Linked DNA regions of Homo sapiens. The protein of the gene in region 1 interacts with the protein of each later gene in a pairwise test. Each region holds a gene or a part of one and is shown in the gene's direction. Other genes may lie near its edges.

What was found.
Region 2: the proteins of ZNF282 (region 1) and MAPKAPK5 interact in a two-hybrid assay, tested with the Homo sapiens proteins (one large-scale study listed by BioGRID and IntAct).

The regions. Positions count from the first base shown.
Region 1 is NC_000007.14:149,198,293-149,202,112, forward strand, and holds part of ZNF282 (zinc finger protein 282), read left to right. Parts: intron 1-40; coding exon 41-460; intron 461-3,820.
Region 2 is NC_000012.12:111,897,416-111,901,235, forward strand, and holds part of MAPKAPK5 (MAP kinase-activated protein kinase 5), read left to right. Parts: 3' UTR 1-3,820. UniProt on the Homo sapiens protein: Tumor suppressor serine/threonine-protein kinase involved in mTORC1 signaling and post-transcriptional regulation. Phosphorylates FOXO3, ERK3/MAPK6, ERK4/MAPK4, HSP27/HSPB1, p53/TP53 and RHEB.

The DNA.
Region 1 (3,820 bases):
GGTCTCATCCTGGGTTGTCGCTTTCTCCCTCTGCATACAGGCTCAAGAATGGGACATGGACGCCCGGCGGCCAATGCCTTTTCAGTTCCCACCCTTTCCAGATAGGGCACCTGTCTTCCCCGACCGCATGATGCGAGAGCCCCAGTTGCCCACAGCAGAGATCTCACTCTGGACTGTGGTGGCTGCCATTCAGGCTGTGGAGAGGAAGGTGGATGCCCAGGCCAGCCAGCTGCTGAACCTGGAGGGGCGCACGGGGACAGCCGAGAAGAAGCTGGCCGACTGTGAAAAGACGGCCGTGGAATTTGGGAACCACATGGAGAGCAAGTGGGCCGTGCTGGGGACCCTGCTGCAGGAGTACGGGCTGCTGCAGAGGCGGCTGGAGAACTTGGAGAACTTGCTGCGCAACAGGAACTTCTGGGTCCTGCGGCTGCCCCCGGGCAGCAAGGGGGAGGCCCCCAAGGTATGTGGTGGTCCCTGGGGCAGGGATAGAGGTGAGGAACAGCACAGGTGCATAAAATTCTTGATTTCATTTTGTCAGCCCTTCTCATAAACTTCTCTGGCTCCCCGTTATCCAATTTCAGTGTCTTCTTAAAGCCTGTCTCCACTGAAACAACCTGGTCTTGGACGTTCTACCCCAGCAAGGCTCACTCCATTCATTCCCCACAGTCTGCATTTCTGTCTGGGAGCCTTTGCTCTCGCTGTTCCTAGACCCCTCTGAGTTGTCTGGTTGTCTGCAAGTTCTTGCAGCTCTTCACTCCTTGGTTTTCCCACTTGACACCTACCAGCGATCATGTGTCATTGGCTGTCTTGGTATATGCTCACCGGAATGTGGCTGGAGTCGCACCTCAAACCAGGCTGCCTGGAGTTGCTTTCAAGTCGTAGTCACTTATCTCAGGGGGGCCCTTCTTAAAGTTCAGAATGCACACTCCGTATCTTACTCCGTTCCCTCTCCTGCTTTCCTCCCGGATCCTCAATGCTGCTTTTCAGTTCACTGAGAGAACGGAGTCACCCAGAAGAGGCGTCCACATGCAGCCAGCTTGTTCTTCCATCTGCTGCTCGGTGGCCACAGACTCTGCTTTCCCTTGTTCCTGTGGCTTGATGTCCCCTGCCCACCCCAGGAGGTCACCCCCAGCGTCTCTCTCCTTTCTCCTCTGAGTCATCAGCTCTCCCCCCTCTGCTGGGCTATTCCCACCAGCATGTGACTGTTCTGTCCTGCTGTCCGTCTTTAACAGAAAACCTCCCTGGGCCCTGCATCTACCTGCATTGGTGCCTCATTTCTCCACTCCTCTTTAGAGCAGAACCCCTTGAAAGAGTTGTCTATACTTGTTGTCTCCAATTCTTTCTTCCCCATTTTCTCTCCTTCCCTCCCTTTTCCCCTTCTCTTTATTATAGAATATTCAAATAAAAATAGACAGAATAGTATAATGGGTCCCCATGTATCCAAATTCCAGCTGCATTAGCTGCTAACTCTTGGCCAGTCTTGTTTCACCTAAATCCCTGCCCACTTCCCCACTCCCATTTTATTTTGAAGCAAACCCCAGACATTAGTCATTTCCTTTGCAAATATGTCAGTATTAGCTCAAAAGGTAAAGACTCTTTTTTTTTTAAGTGATAATCTCAATGTTATTACCACCACCACCATAGTAAAAGCTTCAGCCTAGATCACTGTCTAGCCAGTGATTAGATTTTCAGTTGTTTCAATTTTTAAAAACATTTTTTTAGTTTGAATTAGGATTCAAGTAATGTCCACACATTATGTTTGAGATGTCTCTTAAGTCTTTTTTAATCTGCGGGCATCTCTTCCATCTATTATTTTTCCTTTCAGTTTATCTGGAAGGAATTGGGCCACCTGTCCTGTTTTGCATCTCGCTGTCTGGATTCCACTGATTACGTCCCCTGTGGTCTCATTTAACATGTTCCTCTATTCTCAGTATTCCAGTTGATTGGTAACTGGATCTTTCTCTCTGGAACGCACTCTGATCAGGCCTTTGCTCACTAATGATGTCCGTGGTGTTACAGCCAGTGGTTGCTTCTCAGTCTTCATCCTCCCTGTCCTGTCAGCAGCATTGTGTGTAGGTGACCACTCTCTCCGTGAAACCCCTTGCCGTGGCTTCTGGGACACCTCTCTCTGCTGAGTCTTTTCCTACCTCACCAGCTGCTGTGTCTCATTGTTTGCCAATTTTGCCTCCTTTGGCCAGCTTTCTAATGCATGGAGTGGGCCAGACCTCTGTCTTGGCCTTTTGCTCTTTATTTACTCTCCTCCCTCATGACTGCATCCCGTCTCACAGTCTTTATTATTTATTTATTTATTTATTTTTTTTGAGACAGAGTCCCGCTCTGTTGCCCAGACTGGAGTGCAGTGACGTGATCTTGGCTCACTGCAACCTCTGCCTCCAGGGTTCAAGTGATTCTCCTGCCTCAGCTGCCCTAGTAGGTGGGATTACAGGCATCTGCCACCATGCCCACCTAATTTTTTGTATTTTTAGGGGAGACGGGGTTTCACCATGTTGGCCAGGCTGGTCTCGAACTCCTGACCTCAGGTGATCCACCTGCCTGGGCCTCCCAAAGTGCTGAGGTTACAGGCGTGAGCCACCACGCCCAGCTAGTCTCACATTATTAAAAGCAATCTGTATGCTCTCACCTCCCAAATAGATGCTTTCTCTCCCCTGCTCCCTTTCTATATGTTGCCCAGCTTTCTTTCTGGAATGCCAGATTCACATTCCTACCTATTAATTCATTTGGATGTCAGTAAATCTTAGATTTAACATGTCCAAAGTGAACTGCGGATCGCCTGCCTGAGACCTGTTCTACCTGAAGTTGTCCTCATCTCCGTTGATGACGGATGGTTCCATCCTTTCAAGTGCTCAGGCCAAAGCCTTGGAGTCATACTTGTCTCCTCTCTTTCTCACACCCTACTTCCAATCTATTAGTAAATACCCTGATTTTTCTTCAGAATATATCCACAACCTGGCCACTCCTCACCACCTCCACTCCCATCGCCATCGTCTGGTCCCAGGCACCATGGTCTTTCATCTGATTTTTGCCATGGCCTCCTGGTGGGTCTCATTGTCTTCATCCTTGTCCCCCCACCCATACAGTCTATCTCAACACAGCAGCCAGAGTGATCCTTTGAAAATGTGAAGCAGTCACATCACACCTCTGCTTAAACCTCCCAAATGGCTGGGCACGGTGGCTCACGCCCATAATCCCAGCACTTTGGAAGGCCGGGCAGGTGGGTCATGTGAGATCAGGAGTTCAAGACCAGCCTGGCCAACATGGTGAAACCCCATCTCTACTAAAAATACAAAAATTAGCTGGGCATGGTGGCAGGCACCTGTAATCCCAGCTACTCAGGAGGCTGAGGCAGGAGAATTGCTTGAACCTGGGAGGCAGAGGCTGCAGTGAGCTGAGATCTTACCACTGCACTCCAGCCTGGGTGACAGAGTGAGAATCTGTCTTAAAAAAAACCCAAAAAACACCTCCCAAATGGCTTCCCATCTGATTAGAATAAAAGCCCATGTCTGTTTATGGCCCACGCTCTCTTCCCCTGCCTCTCTGACCTCCTCTGCATCCACTCCCTCCTGCTCACTCCCATCTGTGCTGTTCTGCCAGCACACCACGTGCGCCCCCAGCTCAGGGACTCTCCACTGAGAAGCTCCTGCCCTGAATATCTGCATGGCCGTCCTCGCCACCTCTTCCATCAGGGTCTGCTGAGGTGCCACTTCATCAGCATGCCCTTCTACAACCATCCTATATGAAAGAACCACGTCCCCCAAGCACACTCGTCTCCCTGCCCTTACTCGAATTTTCTACAAAGCAC
Region 2 (3,820 bases), on another chromosome or scaffold:
TTCAATTTGAGAATTAGAAAATTGGATATTTCATTTTAATTATTTATTTAAAGAGTAGAGTGTTCTTCCATTATTGAATCTTCTTTTATCCCACCAAATGGCTTAACCTAATTTGCGCTGCCTATTTTGGTTAAGAAACAGGGAAACACCCTAAAATCTGTGATAATTTTCAAAATACAATTTTAAGAAGCTTTGCGCTTACATAAATCACAAGAAATACAGCTGGAAATCATTTCACTTTTCTTGCTGTAAATTTTTTTAGTGGGTTTGTGACAGTATAAATTTTCTTGCTAGATGCTAATGATACATTGTATTATCTGTATTAGGAATTAAATATTTAATAGGAATAGTGAATAAATTGATCTGCTCTCATGCTGTTATCTAAGATCTTATGCTACCATTACATTCCTTTCTGTAGTCGTATCTCATATTTGAAAGGTCTCATGTTGTAAATATTTGACTTGCTGTAAAATTATACAAGATAAAAAATGTAGAGTTTTATTTTTCTTCATCTAGAATGCACAGAATAACTGCGTAAGGAATGGGTGCATAGGGCTTCTTTTCCTTTTAAATTTGTACTGCTAAATACACCAAGGAAATTGACATCAAAACCAAATTCAAGGACTTCCACAGACATTTCAGGTCAATTTTAGTTCCAAACCGAAGAAATCTTTTAAAAGTTCTTATATAGCCCAGTTTTCTTTTCTTGATGAAATGTTAACTAGACACCTGGTTAGTCAGCTTTTATTTTGACCCCACAGTTTTTTTTTTGAGACGGATTCTCACTCTGTTGCCCAGGTTGGAGTGCAATGGTGTGATCTCGGCTTACTGCAACCTACGCCTCCTGGGTTCAAGCGATTCTCCTGCCTCACCTTCCTGAGTAGCTGAGATTACAGGCGCCTGCCACCACGCCCCGCTAATTTTTGCATTTTTAGTAGGGACAGGGTTTCACCATGCTGGCCAGGCTGGTCTCGAACTCCCGACCTCAGGTGATCCGCCTGCCTCGGCCTCCCAAAGTGCTGGGATTACAGGGGTGAGCCACCGTGCCCGGGCCCCACACTTTGTTTTTATGTTAGGGCAGTTGGAGGAACTGAACTTTGATCCTGATCCTTTATATACTCCCATGGTGAAACTTGAGCCCATTTTACTTAACACAATATATCCGTGCATTAGGAAAACTTGGTAGAGAAGATTATATGCAGATATAAAATATCTAAACTCATTTGTTATGAACCAACGATAATGAGGGAAAACTTGGACATCCACATACAGATTTTCTTGAATTAAAGAAAAAAACCAGACACTGACAAAGGAGAGCTGAACTGATAAATGGTACCCTGAAAACTGCAGAAATGAGGGAAAGAGGCAGTGGGCCACAAAGAACTTTGTCCTTTTCAGAGATCCCCAGAGAAGCCCTGCCCCCTTCCCCCCACCCCCTGACAGAATGTTGTGTTTCAAAGAATGAGCAGATTAATGGATATCAAGTTGTGTGGCCTGAGCTGAGGATAAAGAATAATTTGCCTGAGGAGTTACAGTACTGGCTGGATCACTACAGGCCTTCTACTTGGAATATCTTCCCATGAAAGTAAAAGGAATATAACTAAGGAAGATTAAAGTTGTTGCTGTTGGAAGGAAGACATACTAAAGAAACTGCCGAAGGCCAGGAGAGAAGCAGGAAGAGAAACACGGCTTGAAGTTCTGTAAGAATCAGAGTTGGGCAAGAACTGCCAATAAGGGAGCCAGCGTAGATCTGAGTACTAAACACCTGAGCCTCCGAGGGTTTGTGTGCGAGGGAGAGCTCTGCTGATGGACATAGGCCCAGAATCATTAACTGATTTATTTGGGCCATGTCACTGGTGGCATTATTAAAAGACTCTGCCAACATCCTGCTTTATGGAAAAACCAAGTGGCCTTGGAAGAGGCTAAGATAAAGTTTCAAACTTGGGCTCCACAGAAGTGGAACTTAAGGCTGGGGCTAGTACCAGGACCTTCATGTATCAGGTTAGAGATTTTGATGCTTTTGGTGATTTTTGTGCCAAGCATGTACTGTCACCTGGGATCAATCTATTACTCTTTCTATGAAATAATTATTCCAAAGAGGCTGACAGTCCAGGGAGGAGATAGCCCAGTGGAAGGACTGTCCTACTTGTTACTTATGCAAGGCCAGAAGCACCTGGTTCATCTGAAGGTGAAGAGAAACCATTTTGTGAATAACTTTCCAGTCTACAGTTACCACAATGGCCTCCTGGGGCAAGAATCGCCTTTCATCTCACATGACTGCCACTATGAAGGCTACATAGAAGGAGTGTCAGGTTCTTTTGTTTCTGTCAACATCTGTGCAGGTCTCAGGGGCACATCCTCCTGATTAAGGAGGAAAAATCTTACAGCATTGAGCCCATGGACTCTTCAAGACGGTTTGAACATGTGTTATACACCATGGCACATCAAGCGTGAGTCTCCTGTGGTGTCTACTAGCTGGCAACAAGGGAGCAGGAAGCCTCATGATCTACAGGCACTGTCCTACTTGTGGTCACACAAAAAGTACGTGGAGATGTTTGTCGTGGTCAACAACCAGCGGTTCCAGATGTGGGGCAGTAACGTCAATGAGACGGTCCAGACAGTAGTGGATGTCATTGCTCTGGCCAACAGCTTCACTAGGGGAATAAACACAGAGGTGGTGCTGGCTGGAATGGAGATTTGGACCGAGGGGGACCTAATAGATGTCACAGTGGACTTGCAAATCACACTCAGGAATTTCAATCACTGGAGACAAGAGATGCTCTTCCATCGTGCAAAACACGATGTTGCCCACATGATCGTTGGGCATCACCCTGGACAGAATATGGGCCAGGCCTTTCTCAGTGGTGCCTGCTCAAGCGGTTTTGCGGCAGCTGTTGAATCCTTCCATCATGAAGATGTGCTGTTGTTTGCAGCCCTGATGGCCCATGAGCTCGGGCACAACCTGGGTATTCAGCACGACCACTCGGCCTGCTTTTGTAAAGATAAGCACTTTTGCCTCATGCATGAAAATATCACAAAAGAAAGTGGCTTCAGCAGCTGCAGCTCTGACTACTTCTACCAGTTCCTTCGAGAACACAAAGGGGCCTGCCTATTTAACAAGCCACGGCCCAGGGGCCGCAAGCGTAGGGATTCTGCCTGTGGAAATGGTGTGGTGGAGGACACGGAGCAGTGTGACTGTGGTTCTCTATGTCAGCATCATGCATGCTGTGATGAAAACTGTATACTGAAGGCGAAAGCAGAGTGCAGTGATGGTCCATGTTGTCATAAGTGTAAATTTCACCGTAAGGGATATCCTTGCTGTCCTTCTAGTCGTTCCTGTGATCTCCCAGAATTTTGCAATGGTACATCTGCATTATGCCCCAACAACAGGCATAAGCAAGATGGCTCAAAATGTCATACAATTTACGAGTGCCTTAAAGTTCATTGTATGGACCCTAATAATCAGTGCTTACAATTATATGGATATGGTGCAAAATCAGCCTCACAAGAGTGTTACAATTCAATGAACAGCAAAGGGGACCAATTTGGAAACTGTGGCATTTCTACCAGTCCTGGGTCACAATATGTTCGGTGTTCAGATGGTAATATATTTTGTGGGAAACTTATATGTTCAGGTATTACAGGCTTACCAAAAATCAATCTCCAACATACAATGATTCAGGTCCCTCAGGGAGATGGCTCATGTTGGAGCATGGATGCCTATATGAGTACTGACATTCCTGATGAAGGAGATGTGCACAATGGCACTTACTGTGCACCAAACAAAGTCTGCCTGAATTCCGCCTGCACAGATAAAACC